Linked DNA regions of Homo sapiens: region 2 is linked to region 1. The links come from fine-mapping of genetic effects on gene expression. Tissue or cell type: unexposed skin. Region 1 holds a variant in brackets; the other region holds the start of a gene. All regions are shown on one strand. Distances are from middle to middle.

Evidence for each region. PIP is the estimated chance that this variant, and not a neighbour inherited with it, causes the effect.
Region 2: GNA15-DT starts here. The variant in region 1 is fine-mapped to the expression of GNA15-DT in unexposed skin (GTEx, PIP 0.99).

Annotation. Positions count from the first base shown.
Region 1 is chr19:2,657,792-2,665,892 of GRCh38, reverse strand. All of the region lies in intron 1 of GNG7 (G protein subunit gamma 7), which reads left to right. Among named protein-coding and RNA genes, the nearest start is that of MIR7850, 31 kb to the right of the region's middle. The variant C/T (reference allele first, on the strand shown) is at 4,310.
Region 2 is chr19:3,150,496-3,158,596 of GRCh38, reverse strand. It overlaps GNA15-DT (GNA15 divergent transcript), which reads left to right and starts at 3,422. Exons shown (of 4, transcript NR_110670.1): 1 at 3,422-3,579. GNA15 (G protein subunit alpha 15) reads right to left here. Exons shown (of 7, transcript NM_002068.4): 4 at 6,762-6,890; 5 at 2,645-2,774; 6 at 716-869. RefSeq lists enhancers at 3,102-3,191, 3,232-3,561, 2,849-3,806.

The DNA.
Region 1 (8,101 bases):
CATCTCAAAAAATAAGTAAAATAAATTGAAAAAGAATAATAAAAGGAGGTAATCCAGGTTCTAAATAATAAAGCCAGTATGTGCCATGACCCATGGCTCAGACACCACTTTAAACATTTTATAGATACTCATTTATGTAATCTCCAAAACCAGTCTCACAGGGTGGATGCTGCTTCGATGTGCATTCTACAGAGTGGGAAACTGAGGCACAGCGACAGTGGCAAGGGACTGAAGGTCACCCAGCCAGACAGCGAGTCGTGAAGTCAGAATGGAGTAGCTCTTGTCCAGCACTCCACCTTGGCCATACCAGAGCGTACGTCCCCACCCAATCCTTCCTCGGGACTCAGTGGAGCTATTTTCACATTGAGGGGAAATAGAAATCCGTTCGTTCTCATTTTCTTTCTTTTTTTTGTCCCGCATGGCCCTCTTCCCAAATCCTTGTTGCCCGTCTCACCAGACATTCCAGTTCCAAGAGGTGGGGTGTGGCGAGGACTGTCCAGCACGGCAGGGTGATCCTGCCCCCCCCCCCCCAGGGGACACTGGGCCATGTCTGGGGACATTTGTGGCTGTCACCATTGAGAAGTGCTCCGGGCATGCAGTGGCTGGAGGTCACGGATGCCGCTCAGCGTGCTGCAGTGCTCAGGACGGCTCCATCCCAGAGAATGGTACAGCCCCAGTGTCCACCGTGCCTGGGAGGAGAGACTCAGCATTCATTATTTGGAGAAGAAATGGAGTCTGCTTCCTGCTCACCAGGACACACTCCTGATGGGGCAGACGGTGTAAACCAGGGGACCCCAGCTCGTGGGATTCACCTCCTCTCTCCCTCCCCCCAACTAAAGGTGTGGATTTCAATGTGTGCAGCCTCCTGGGACCTCAGCAGGACAGAAGATCAGGGGACAGAGTATCTTGGGGGTCCGTGGAATTTCCTAATTCAGGGGGTGTCAACTGAGGGTGATTCTGCCCCAGGGGACACTGGGTGTTGTCTGAGGACATTTGTCGTTGTCACAACTTGAGGATGGTCGTGGCGTGGAGTGGGTGGAGGCCAGGGACACTGCTCAGCACCCTGCAGTGTCCGGGACAGCTGCACCCTAGAGAATGACCCAGCTCTGAATGTCCACGGTTTCCAGGGGAGAGACCTTGCATTAACTGGCAAAAAAATGAGTTTGCTCCCTGCTCACAGTAGACACCAGAATAGATTCCCGATGGGGCAGACGGTGTCAGCCGGGGCCATCCTCCCAGAGTGACCTAGAGGACTGGGTGAGGAGGGTCTCTAGAGCACTGAGGGTGCAGGACACAGAGCCAACCGTCTGATTGTTCCTTCCCCCTCCTTGACCTCGGCTCACAGAGACCTTGAACCCTCAGGGTCAAGCAGGCCTGCCCCTTTGTTCTGTGTGCCCCAGGGTGCAGTGGAGCCTGTTCCAGGTCACGCCCGGCCTGGCCGTCATCAGTCTCGTGGCTCTGAAGCAGCCACGTCACTCCCCCAGTCCCGGCACCTCCCCTGCGCCTGCACCTGGGTGAGAGCCCGTCCAGGCCTCTCTGCCCCCTTCCTTTGCAATCAGCACTTTGCTGGTGACATATTTAGATGGTTGCTGTGGTGATGAGTGAAGGCTGAGGTTGACAACTTCAGCGATGGCACAAAGGACAGGGCTGTGTTTCTATATCCAGCCTCCAACGAGACAAGACGCCCCTGCCACGTGCTGGCAGAATGTCAGCGTGGGAAGGGAAGGGGGCTCTGACAGCCCGTCCTGCCCACTCAGTTCCCAGAGGAGGAAGTGCAGCCGGGCCTGGGGGGCGGTGGAGGATAGGCCTGTCATCAAATGTCAGGTCCCTGGCTGTCCTGCCCTTGAGGGACATGCCTTAGAGCATTGGGTCTCAACTGGGGGCAAGCCTGCCCCCTGGGGGACACTGGTAATGTCTGGGGACATTTGTGGGTACCGTGACTTGGGGGTGCTCCTGGCCTGGAGTAGGTGGAGACCAGGGATGCTACTCAGCACTGTGCAGTGCCCAGAACGGCCCCACCCCAGAGAATAATCAAGCCCCAGTTTAATAGTGTCAAGATCAAGCCACGTTGCTTTAGTAGGAAATAGATAAAAGCCAGTGGATTTGTTCAGTTTTAAAAACTGGTGCTGGCATGCATATCTTGATAATTTGCAAAATGCCAAAATGAATCATTTTCTTGGCCTGGTCATTCTTCTGATTTGCCCTCAGTGAATGTACCTTATCCATCTGGGCTTTTGCATCTCTCCCAATTATCAGGTTGATAGATATTGGAAAAACAAGAAAATGAAAAATCCAATTGCTGGCTTTTAGGAAAAGGTAATGTTTGACTACACACCTGTCTTTATTTTGTGCTGCTATAATGGAATGCCATAGACTGGATAATTTATAAATAATAGAGATTTGTTTCTTAACGGTTCTAGGGACTGGGAAGTCCAATGTCGAGGTGCTGGCATCTGGTGAGGGCCTTCTTGCTGCGTCAGAGGTGGAAGGGCAAAAGAGCACATATATGAAAGATTGGGGAACTGGGGAAGAAAGAGGAGGGGGGGGAGAGAGAGAGAAAGGGTGAGAGGGAGAGAGAAAGAGAGATGGCATTAATGAGGGTAGGGCCTTCATAACCTAATCACCTCTTAAAGTTCTCACCTCTCAACATGGTGGCATTGGGAATTAAAGTTTCTACAATATGCTTTTTGGGAGACACATTCAAACTATAGCAACATCTGCTTGGAGGAGTCATGTGGATCAGCCCTTCCTTCCCTTTGCAGATGTACCAGTTATCTATCACTGTGTAACAAATTACCCCAACACTTAGCTTAAACAGCAAGCATTTACTATCCTGCAGTTTCTGTGGGTCAGTGGGATATTATATTACTTGCATTATATTTATTATATTATTTGGTCTTTGTCCTGATTTTTTTCTGGTGCAGAACTCCTAAAATCCTTGGAATCTGCAAAGTCATGTCTTTTTGTATGATGATAAGTCGACTGATGGCTGACAGCTTCTAGTTATTTTCAGGAATGGTCTGGCCACCAGAAAGATCAAGGCAGGATGAGAGGGCTGGAACCTTTAGCTGTACCCTCCAGCCTCTGGGGAGGGGAGAAGGGCTGAAGGTTGAGGTGATGACCAGTGGCCAGTGACGCGATCAGTCATGCCTATGAAGTAAAGCCTCCATAAAACTTCAAAAGGACGGGGTTTGGAGAACTTTGAGATAGCTGAGCACATGGAGGTTCCTGAAGGGTAGCATGCCAAGGAAGCTTTGCCCTTCTTCCCTATACCTCATCCTATGCATCTTTTCGTCTGTATTCTTTGTAATATGCTTTATATTAAACCAGTAAATGTGTTTCCCTGAATTCCGAGAGCTGCTGTAGTAAATTAAACCCAACCCTAACTTCAAGCTGGTCAGTTGGAAGTTCTGGAGGCCCAAACTTGCTACTGGTATCTGAAGAGGTTAGGGGCAGTCTTGTGGGGGGATTTAGCCCTCAACCTGTGGGGTCCAAGGCTGTCTCCAGGTAGATAGCACCTGAATTGAATTGAACTGAATCGAATTAGGGGACAGCTAGCTGGTGTGTGGGGAAACTCCTCTCACATTTGGTCACAGAAATATCTTGGGTTGATTTTTTTTTTTTTTTTTTTTTGAGATGGAGTCTCGCTCTGTCGCCCAGACTGGAGTGCAATGGTGCAATCTCTGCTCACTGCAGCCTCCGCCCCCCAGGTTCAAGTGATTCTCCTGCCTCAGCCTCCTGAGTAGCTGAGATTACAGGTGCCCACAACCACGCCTGGCTAATTTTTGTATTTTTGGTAGAGACAGGGTTTCACCGTGTTGGTCACGCTGGTCTCAAACTCCTGATCTTAAGTGATCCACCTGCCTTGGCCTCTGAAAGTGCTGGGATTACAGGCGTGAGCCACTGCACCTGGCCATGTTGATTGCTGTTGATGTGAGAGCAAGAGGAAAAGCAATTTGAGTTTGAGTTTTTTCCACCCTCACTCAGGAGTTAGGAAGCAGCTCCACTGGGTGATTCTGGCAGTGAATGTGCTGGGGCTGTATCATCTGAAGGCTCGATTGGAGCTGGAGGAGCTGCTTTCAAGAGGGCGCCCTCATGTGGCTGTTGGTGGAGGCCTCAGCTTCCAACTGGCCTTGACAGGAGGGCAAAATGCCCAAATGAGTCGTTCCTTCCTTCTTTCCTTTTTTCCTTCCTTCCTTCCTTTTTTTTTTTTTTTTTTTTTAATGGAGTCTCACTTTGTCAGCCAGGCTAGAGTGCAGTGGCACAATCTTGGCTCACTGCAACCTCTGCCTCTTGGATTCATGCAATT[C/T]TTCTGCCTCAGCCTCCCGAGTAGCTGAGATTACAGGCATAATTACAGTAATTAGCCAATTACTGGCTAATTTTTATATTTTTTTTTAGTAGAGATAGGGTTTCACTGTGTTGGCCAGGCTGGTCTCAAATTCCTGATCTCAAATGACCTGCCCCAACCTTGGCCTCCCAGAGTGCTGGGATTATAGGCATGAGCCACTGTGCCCAGCCTGGAGGGCCCATTTCTTTCTTTCTTTCTTTCTTTCTTTCTTTCTTTCTTTCTTTCTTTCTTTCTTTCTTTCTCTTTCTTTCTTTCTTTCTTTCTTTCTTTCTTTTCTTTCTTTCTTTCTTTCTTTCTTTTCTTTCTTTCTTTCCTTTTCTTTTTTTTTTTTTTGAGACAGAGTTTTGCTCTTGTTGCCCAGGCTGGAGTGCAGTGGCACGATCTTGGCTCACTGCAACCTCCGCCTCCCAGGTTCAAGTAATTCTCCTGTCTCAGCCTCTCTAGTAGCTGGGATTACAGGCATGCACCACCACGCCCGGCTAATTTTGTATTTTTAGTAGAGACAGGGTTTCTCCATGTTGGTCAGGCTGACCTCGAACTCCCAACCTCAGGTGATCTGCCCGCCTCGGCCTCCCAGAGTACTGGGATTACAGGTGTGAGCCAACGTGCCCGGCCTGGAGGGCCCATTTCTGCAACACATGGATTTCTTCACAGCACTGCCTGCATTTCCCCACAACATGGCAGCTGGCTTCCCCCAGAACACATGACCCAAGAAAGAACAAGCAAAAGTCACTGTGTCTTTATTTATTTATTTGAGACAGGGTCTTCCTCCATTGCCCAGGCTGGAGTGCAGTGGTATGAGCATGGCTCCCCACAGTCTTGAACTCCTGGGCTCCAGTGATCCTCCTGCCTCAGGCTTCCAAGTAGCTGTGATTACAGGGGCACACCATCACGACTGGCTAATTTTTGTATTTTTTGTACAGATGGTGGTGGGGTGTTGGTGGTGGGGGTGTCTCACTATGTTGCCCAGGCTGGTCTTGAACTCCTAGGCCCCCATCCTCCCATCTCAGCCTCCCAACGTGCTGGGATCACAGGCGTGAGCCACCACACCCAGCCTCGTCTACTTTCTAGCTTGTCTTCTTGTACCTTTGAGGGCAGGAACATGGTAAACAGATGAAAAATATACGTCCAGTTTCTCCCTTCCCTGTGGTTTTGGAGCAGGAGGATGAAAAGGTCTTACCCACAGCATCAACCCTTCAATGGAAGGAATTGTGTTTCTCCCACAGGGAATCAGGATTGGAAAGGGATGAGGCTCAGGGAGAATTACACAGAGCCTTGTGGGTGTAACGGGGATGAAGATGTGTTATCTCCCACTTGATGCCATCTTGCAGAAATAAGCTAATCATCTCCAGAATATGCTTTCGTTCACCAAATGGGATTTACACATGCATCCTAGGCTAATCTGCCTTCCACGGATGGCAGGTTCTGTGAGTAATCCGACAGAGGCTAATTGGGACGGATTCCATGAGGACTGCTGTGTGATCCGCTCGCCGCCATGGCCCCTCGGTGAGGAGGATGGCTCTGGTGTGGGTTAATCCAGGCTTAAGTGGCCAGGAGATTTTGATCCTCATGGTATTACATTGTGATGATACTCACAGGGGCTCGGGGGAAAGCAGAAAATCCATTTGGCCAAGACTGACCAGTCTTCTCTCTGGGGCTTATTCAGGAAGCTTGTGGAAGGGGATCCAGTCATAAATGTCAGTGCTTACGGATCATGTTGTCTAAAGTGGGTGTCTCTCCTTTCCTCTTCCTTCCCTCATCCCTCCCTCCCTCCCTCCCTTCCTTCCTTCCTCCATCCCTCCCTCGCTCACACTCATTCCCCTTCCCTTCCTCTCTCCCTCCCTCTCACTCTGTTTTCCTCTCTCTCCCACCCTTTCTCCCTCTTCCTCTCCCTTCCTCTTTCCTTCCCTCCCTCTTTCCCTCCCCTCCTCTCTTTTTTTTTTTTTTTTTTTAAGATGGAGTCTCACTCCTCTATTTCCCAGGCTGGAGTGTAGTGGCGTGATCTCAGCTCACTGCAACCTCCGCCTCCCAGGTCCAAGCGATTCTCCTGCCTCAGCTTCCCAAGTAGCTGGGATTACAGGCAAGTGCCACCATGCCTGGCTAATTTTTGTATTTTTAGTAGAGATGGAGTTTTGCCATGTTGGCCAGGCTGGTCTCAAACTCCTGTCAAACTCCTGACCTCAGGTGATCCCCCCATCTCAGCCTCTCAAAGTGCTGGGATGACAGACGTGAGCCACCGCGCCCGGCCCTCCTCTCCTTTATTTAAAAAAAATCAAGGCCAGGCGCAGTGGCTCACGTCTGTCATCCCAGGACTTTGGGAGGCCAAGGTGGGCGGATCACGAGGTCAGGAGATTGAGACCATCCTGGCTAACCCGGTGAAACCTCGTCTCTACTAAAAATACAAAAAATTAGCCAGGTGTGGTGGCGGGCGCCTGTAGTCCCAGCTACTCGGGAGGCTGAGGCAGGAGAATGGCATGAACCCGGGAGGTGGAGCTTGCAGTGAGCCGAGATTGTGCCACTGCCCTCCAGCCTGGGTGACAGAGCGAGACTCCATTTCAAAAAAAAAAAAAAATCAGAACGCTTGGTTCGTGATACAACTCTCACAATTTGTCTCTTCAAGTCCCCCTTTTAATAGACTATTTTTAGAGCAGTTTTAGGCCTAAAGAAGAATTGAGCAGAAGGCAGAGTTCCCACCTATCTCCTCTCCCCGAAAAGGTACGCATTTCCCCCAATGTTACCCTCTCTCATTAATGTGCTACATTTGTTACAACTAATGAGCCAGTGGATACATGATTATTGACTAACAGCTACAGTTTACATTTGGTGTGGCTCACTCTCTAGGGACCTCCTAAGCGTGGAGTTACACAGGATTTGTCCTTTTGCATCTGGCTCATTTCACTGGGCGTGATGCCCTCAAAGTTCATCCACTCTCTAGCCCATGTCAAAATTTCCTTCCTTTTTCAGGCTGAATCATATTCCGTGGCATAATGGATGACATTGTGTTTATCCATTCATCTCTCGGTGGTCACTTGGGTGTCTCTGCCTTTGGGGTGTGGTGAATCGTGCTGCTGTGAACACGGGGGTACATTTTGGTTTCGGGGGATGTACCACGTTTTGTTTATACTTGGCTTATTTTTATAAAGCTCGGGGCTAAAAAGCCTTTTCCATTTTAAAAGTGTTGTAAAAAAACAAATAACAAAGAGGAATATGCAACAGTGACCCTTTAGCTCACAGAGCATAAAATACTTACTTTTTGTCCCTTTGCAGAAAAAATTTGCAGACCCCAGATGTAAGATACTAACATGAGGGGAAACTGGGTGAGGGGCGTTTGAGAACTGTAGGGTCCAGCCCTATAGGGTCTGTGGGTTTTTCTCCCCGTGTGTGGAGACGAGAGATCGTAGAAATAAAGACACAAGACAAAGAGGTAAAAGAAAAGACAGCTGGGCCCGGGGGACCACTACCACCAAGACATGAAGACCGGTAGTGGCCCCAAATGCCAGGCTGCACTGTTATTTATTGGATACAAGACAAGGGGGCAGGGTAAGGAGTATGAGCCATCTCCAATGATAGGTAAGGTCATGTGTCCACTGGACATGGGGCCCTTCCCTGTTTGGCAGCCGAGGCAAAGAGAGAGAGAGAGAGAGGAGACAGCTTACGCCATTATTTCCGCATTTCAGAGACTTTTAGTACTTTCACTAATTCTGTTACTGCTATCTCGAAGGCAGAGCCAGGCAGCTCGTGCCCTCAGTCTCT
Region 2 (8,101 bases), 490 kb before region 1:
TCTTAAAACCTAGGCAGATTCTGGAAATAGTAGACAATCTTTCCAGAAGTGCTTTACAACAGTGACCTCTACATAGCAAACCCATGCTTGAAGGATCTTGGCTCAAACCCCAAATGTTGGCCAACAAGCATAAAATAAAATGTTTGGCCGGGCATGGTGGCTCCTGTCTATAATCCTAGCACTTTGGGAGGCTGAGGCGGGTGGATCAGGAGGTCAAGTGATCGAGACTATCCTGGTCAACATGGTGAAATCCCGTCTTTTCGTACTAAAAACACAAAAATTAGCTGGGCGTGGTGGCGCGCACCTGTAGTTCCAGCTACTAGGGAGGCTGAGGTAGGAGAATCGCTTGAACTCTGGAGGGAAAGGTTGCAGTGAGCCGAGATCACGCCACTGCACTCCAGCCTGGTGACAGAGCAAGACTCTGTCTCAAAAATAAATAAATAAATAAAATGTTTAAGGTGTACGTGATATGCTACGTGTTTTTAGAATTCCTCACTTTACTCAGTTCCAAGGGCCTCTGCTATTTTATTCCATTCCACAGAAGGGAAAACAGATTCAATGAGGTCGGGCAGTGGATGGAGCTGAGTCTAGAACGCGGGTCTGATCCTATGTGAAAGTTCCGGTGACTCCAGGCTGAAGTAGAGTCTGGATTAGCATCTCTCTTCGGAGCTGCTTTTGGGAGTTGAAGGGTATAGAAAGTTCTAGAATTACTTACCCTGGAAACTGGGGAAATAGGTAGCCAGGTGGGAGGTGGGGATTTTCTCCTCCAGGATGTCGGTTTTGTTGAGAAAGAGGATGACGGATGTGCTTTTGAACCAGGGTAGTTCCAGGATAGTCCCAAACAATGCGAGGCTCTCCTTCATGCGGTTCTGTGTTGGGGGCAGAAGCAGGTTAGTGCTTCAACCAGCCAGGTGGGACAGGAAACCCTCCCATCGCGGAGACGGGGCTGTTGGCTCCAGGGGCATGGGCTCACCCCTATCTGCCTGGCTGGGGCTGAGGCGGGTGTGCCCGTGTTTCCATATGGACAGCTGCCTGGGTGTGCCTGACATGGTTTTGTGCCTGTGCTGGTTGGAAGTGTGTCCTCCCGAAATTCATGTCCCCCCAGAGCTTCAGAGTGTGACCTTATCTGGAGAGAGATTCTTGAACTCCTGGCCTCCCAGCGTGCTGGGGTTATAGGCATGAACCACTGCACCTGGCCTGGAGATAGGGTCTTTGAAGAGGTCGTTAAGGTGAGGCAATACTAGAATACGGTGGCCCTCAAGTCCGTGACTGCTGTCCTCATAAGAAGAGGGAGACCTGGCCGGGCGCGGCAGCTCACGGCTGTAATCCTAGCACTTTGGGAGGCCAAGGCGGGCAGATCACCTGAGGCCAGGAGTTGGAGACCAGCCTGGCTAACATGGTGAAACCCCGTTTCTACTAAAAATACAAAAAATTAGCCGGGCATGATGGCAGGTGCCTGTAAACCCAGCTACTCGGGAGGCTGAGGCAGGAAAATCGCTTGAACCCGGGAGGCGGAGGTTGCAGTGAGCTGAGATCGCGCCACTGCACTCTAACCTGGGCGACAAAAGCGAGACTCCATCTCAAAAAAAAAAGTACAATAAGGTCTCAAATGCCTTGTGTTATGGGGTACATCATATTTCCCCAAAATTCATACGTTCAAGACCTAACCCCCTAGAACCTCAGTTTGTGACCTTCTTTGGAAACAGGGCCATCACACGAGGAATTAACCCAGATGAGGTCGTACTGGAGTAGGGTGGGCCCTGATCCTAGACGACTGGTGTACTTATTAAAAGAGGCTATTGGCTGGGCACAGTGGCTCACGCCTGTAATCCCAGCACTTTGGGAGGCCGAGGCGGGCGGATCACGAGGTCAGGAGATTGAGACCATCCTGGCTAACATGGTGAAACCCCCTCTCTTCTAAGAATACAAAAAAAAAATTAGCCGAGCGTGGTGGCGGGTGCCTGTAATCCCACCTACTCCGGAGGCTGAGGCAGGAGAATGGTGTGAACCCGGGAGGCGGAGTTTCCAGTGAGCCGAGATCGCGCCACTGCACTCCAGCCTGTGCGTGTGCGTGCATGTGTGTGTGCACGCATGTGTGTGCCTGTGTGCCTGTGTGTGCGTGTGTGTGCCTGTGTGTGCGTGTGCATGTGTGTACTGTGTGTGTGCATGTGTGTGTTCATGTGTGTGCGCATGTGTACATATGCGTGTATTGTGCACGTGAGTGCATGCAAGTGTGCATGTGTGTGGTGCATGTGTGTTCGTGTGCATGTGTTGTGCATGTGCACTGCGTGTGTACATGTGTCCCGTGTGTGCACGTGTGTATGTGCATGTATTATGCACGTGTCTGTGCGTGTTTGTGTGCATGCATTGTGTATGTGCGTGTGTGCACTGTAGTGTGTGTGTGTGTGTGTGTGTGTGTGTGTGTGTGTGTGTCTGGGGTCCTGACCAAACAAATGCTGTAGGTCTGTGTCTTGGGTTGCTGCAATCTGACCACAAAAGGCTGAAGGGTCAAGTTCATAGCCATGCTGGGCACACACAGGCCCGTTCAAGAGCAGGGATCCCTCCCTTTCTGCACCAGAGCTTCCTGCTCAGGTGAGGGTCCCTGGGCCAACAAGTGGGCAGGGCGAGGGAGGCGGTGGCGCACCTCCTGGTTGTTCTCCTCCAGGCACTGGTCGTATTCACTCAGTGAGGCCAGGTAGATGAGGGCGATCACGTTCTCGAAACAATGGATCCATTTCTTACGCTCTGACTTCTGGCCCCCGACGTCCACGATCCTACAGGGAACCGAGGTGCCCCCTTTCAGAGCTCAGGAGCCTGCTCCGTGACACCCCCAACCCCCATCACGTCTGGGATATGCCAAGATCCATAATAGCGACAGCAAGAATAGGTGCTAGCCTCTCGTGGATTTGCCATGTCATTCCCGCGAGGCAAGGATGAGTCTTACGCCCATTTTACAGATGAGAAGCCTGAGATCCAGGGAGGAGCGGGGACTTTCCCAAGCTTCTACTGTGCTGGGCTGCCTGCTTTCTACCCCCATATTAGAGGGGAGCAGGTTGGACAGATCTGAGATGTGCCCTGGTGCTGGCTGGGCGACCCGGCGGAGGAAATTGCCAAACATCTCCAAAACTCAGTTTTCCCATCTGTGCTATGGGGCTCCTGTGCTCTGGCTGGCCATGGGCATGTCCAGTGGCCACACAGATGGGAATGAGGGCTGTTCCCAGAGCACACGTCCTCCCCTCCATCTGTGACTCAGCCCCACGCACCGTAACAAAAGCCTGAACCCTGCCCCCACCTTCCTGTTCTCTCTCTTCTGAGAAATGTGGGTCGCTGATAACCATCTGTGCGTCATTTCCCTGGGGATGCAACCGTTACTCAGGAAGTCCCAGAACAGAGGCTTTGGACGGGCCCGGCCCAGGGCCTCAAGCAAGAAGGGACTTGCCCCATTGCACAGGAGGGGAAACCGGGACTGATGATGAAGCAGTTAGGCTGCAGCTGCTGGATGTGTCTCCTGATCCCTGAGACCCACTCCTCCCATGCATCCTCAGAGTCCCTCAAACCCCACATCCAGAGCCAGACAGGGTAAGCAGCCGTCGAGAGGGGGCTCTGGAGACTGAGACGGGAGTGGGATCAGCAACTGACCAGTTGGGAACTGTGGGCATCACCTCTCATCTCGGGTCTCAGTGTCCTCTGAGCCCTCACTCCATTCATTCGTCTCACTCCTGGGCCACACCTAAAAATCACTTCCTTGGCCCAGACTTCCCCATGATTTCCCAGCCTCTACCTTCACTCCTAAACTTTTATCCACCCACCCACCCCATTCATCGATTTATTCACTCATCCATCCACCCATCCACCCACCCACTCATCCATCCACCCATCCAGCCATTCACTCATCCATCCATCTATCCATCTACCCATCTATCCATCCATCCATCATCCATCCACCCACCCATCCATCCACCCATCCAGCCATTCACTCATCCATCCATCTATCCATCTACCCATCTATCCATCCATCCATCATCCATCCACCTGTCCACCCATTTACGAAATCCACCCACCGACCCACCCATCCATCTCTCCATTTACTCATCCATCCATCCATCCACCCATCTGTCCACCCATTACCCAGCTACCCATCCATCCATCTACCCATCTATCCACTCACTCATCCACCCATGTACCCATCCACCCACCCTCCCACCCATCCACTCATCCATTCATCCACTCACCCATCCACCCATTCATCCATTCATCCGTCACCCACCACCCATCTACCCATTCATTCATCCATCCATCCACTCATCCACCCATCCATCCACCCATTCATCCATCCATCCATCACCCACCACCCATCTACCCATTCATTCATCCATCCATCCACTCATCCACCCATCCATCCACCCATTCATCCATCCATCCATCCATCCATCCCACCCATCCATCCATCTATCCATCCACCCATCCATCTATTCATTCACTCATCCATCCATCTATCCGTCTATCCATCTACCCATCTATTCATCCATCCATCATCCACCTGCCTGTCCACCCATTTACTCAATCCACCCATCCATCCATCGCTTCATCTACTCATCTATCCATCCACCCATCTGTTCACCCATTATCCATCTACTCATACATCCATCTACCCATCTATCCACTCACTCGTCCACCCATCTACCCATCCACCCACCCACACCCCCATCCACTCATCCATTCATCCATCCATTCACCCACTCATCCATCCATCCTTCACTCACCCATTCACCCATTTATTCATTCATTCATCCATCACCTGCCACCCATCTACCCATTCATTCATCCATCCATCCACTCATCCACCCATCCATCCATGCATTCACCCACCCATTCATCCATCCATTCATCCATCCCACCCACCCATCCATCTATCCACTCATCCATCCATCCTTCACTCACCAATCCACCCACCCATCCATTCACCCATCACCCTTCCACCCATCTACCCATTAATTCATCCATCCACTCATTCACCCATCCATCCACCCATTCATCCACCCATCTATCCATCTATCCACTCATCCACCCACTCATCCATTCATGTATCACCCATCCACCCATCTAACCATCCATCCATCCATCCATCCACTCATCCCTCTTTCAATCCATCCATCTATCCATCCATTCATCCATCCACCCACTCATCCATCTATCCATTGATTCATCCACTCATCCATCCTGCCACTCCATCCATCCACTCATCTATCCCTCAACTTATCCATCCATCTATTCATCTATCCATCCACCCATTCATCCACCCATCCATTCCCTTCCATCTTTCCTTTTTTTTTTTTTTTAAAGATTCCCAGACCAAGTATCTCTCCCATAGAAGTCATCCTTGGGTACTAACACTACTATTGTGTCCCAGAGCTGGTTCCTTCTCGTGGGTTCTCGGTCTCGCTGACTTCAAGAATGAAGCCGCAGACCTTCGCAGTAAGTGTTACAGCTCTTAAAGGTGGTGTGGACCCAAAGAGTGAGCAGCAGCAAGATTTATTGTGAAGAGCGAAAGAACAAAGCTTCCACAGCGTGGAAGGGGACCCGAGCGGGTTGCCCCCATTCCATCTTTCCAACCATCCACCCACATTTACCAACTTCTACTCTGACCTTTAGCTATTCACTAAAGAAGCAGAAGAATCAAACTCAGCCCCTAACCTTGTGAGGCTCTCCATCTTGTAGAGGAGACCCACAGAAAACAGATAAATTATGAACCTTCCTAGTAAGGACTATTGAAGAGGCCAAAACAATAGGTTTGGGGGATTTAGGGAAAGGAAGGCCAAATAGGGGTAGGTCAAACACAATCGCTGTCTCTGGGCATGACTTTGCACCCCTGCTCAGCTCCCCGCCATCAGCCCATGGAAACAGATCTTGCTAAGGTCACCAGTGACCCTCTAACTGCCAATCCCAGAGTCATTCTTCTCACTGTATTCTTGACCTTTCCTTTCCTGACCTTTGACATTGGCCATTGCTCTGCTGGGTTAGGGTTAGGGTTAGGGTGCTGCACTGGCCATTCCCACCTCTGTCTGCCAGCTAAGGTGGAGTCCCCCTAGGCCCCTCAGACTCAACCTGTCCCAAAGGACTCCATCACCACCTTTTCATCCTCTAGCCCACCGGCTCCACTGTCTACCCCCATCACCTTGACAAAAAACTCAGGTGTCATTTTTGACTTCCTGTTCTAATTCCCACACTCATCCAGTCCTGCCCATTCCACATCAGAAACAACTCTTGCCCATCCCTTCCTTTCCATCCCCACGCCCGCTGTCCTGGCTCCTCCTTTTTCTGAGTTTCCTGACTTCCAGCCTCACACTCTAGTCCATCCCCCAGTGTTGATGACTACAGGGATCACCTCTGAGCTCCCCAGACCAGGCCTCCCCAGACCTGGTCCTGACTGTATAGTCTCTATTTCCTCCTCCCCAGCAGCCCCTTCAGGGTTAGGACTACTGAACTCCTATTCGTCTTTCAAAACCCCATTAATATTCCCTCCTCCAAGAAGATATTCCCTCCTGGATCTCTGATGCCTCAGCCTGGGCTCCTACAGGTCCCAGTCCTGACTACCTGGGGGCCTGGAGGTGTCTACATGGAGCTTTGCTTCCCCTAGCTTGGCAGCTCCTTGAAGGCTGGGCCTAAGAAACTCCTACTCATCCCTCAGGGCCCCAGCTCCTTTGCCCTTCCTACAGGAAGCCTTCCCTGCCCCCTAGGCTGGGCCTAGGTGGAGCGCTCACCGCAGGTTGGTTTTCTGCACGGAGAAGCAGTACTCGTTGATGCCAGTGGTGGGCATGCGGCTGCGGAGCACGTCCTGAGCTGTGGGGACGTAGCCCTCCTCGGTGATGCGCTCCAGGTGGGACAGGTAGCTGCAGAGCAAGGAGTCCTGAGGCCCAGCCTTGCAGCCAGCCTCCCTTTGCTTCCCAGGCCCTACGAAAGGCCCAGCAAGGACCCTGCTGGGGGAGGAGAGCTCCCTGGGTGGAGGTGGGGTCCCTGGAGTTGGCAGATGGCCCAGGAGCGTCCCCCACCTGAGGCAATGGAGCCCCAAGGAAAAGCAGCTTCACACGCAGAGCAGGGTGACCCGAGGGATGGCGTGACATGAGGAATGGCCTCATCGAGGAGTGGTGTCCCCCGGGAGAGCTGCTATGGCAGGGGTGGCGCTACCCCAAGAATGCTGGTAGCCTGGGAACAGTCTTCCCAGACATCAAGCCACCTTGGACATCCACCATCACACCTAGTACAGGATCCCACTAGGAATAGGGTCACCCCCAGAACAGGGTCTCCCCTGGAACAGAGTCCCCCCTAAAACAGGGTCACTTTAGGAACAGGGTCCCCCCAGGAACAGGGTCACTCCAGGAACAGGGTCCCCCCAGAATAGGGTCCCCTCAGAAACAGGGTCACTCCCAGAAAAGGGTCCCTTCTAAAACAGGGGCACTCTAGGAACAGGTTCCCGCCAGGAATAGGGTCACTCCGGGAACAGGGTTCTCTAGGAATAGGGTTCCCCCAGGAACAAGGTCCCCCCAGGAACAGGGTCCCTCCAAGAACAGGGTCACTCTAGGAATACAGTCCCCCCAGGAACAGGATCACCCCTAGGAACAGGGTCACTCCAGGAAAAGGATCAACGCCAGAACAGGATCCCCCAGGAAATAGGGTCTCCCTGGGAACAGAGTCACCCCCGGGAACAGGGTCCCCCCAGAAACAGGGTCACCCCTGAAACAGGGTCCTCACGGGAACAGGGACTCCAAGGCCCAGGGTCACTCCAGGAACAGGGTTCTCCAGGAATAGGGTTCCCCCCAGGATCAGGGTTCCCCCCAAGAACAGGGTCACTCTAGGAATACGGTTCCCCCAGGAACAGGGTCACCCCTGAAACAGGGTCCTCGCAGGAACAGGGAACCCCAGGCACAGGGTCACTCTAGGAACAGGATACCCCCTAGAACAGGGTCTCCCCAAGGAACTGGATTCCCTCAGGAACAGAGTCACTCCTAGAACAGAGTCCCCCTATGAATAGGGTCATTCCAAGAACAAGATCACCGCCAGAACAGAGTCCCAAGGAACAGGGTCCACCCAGGAACAAGGTCAT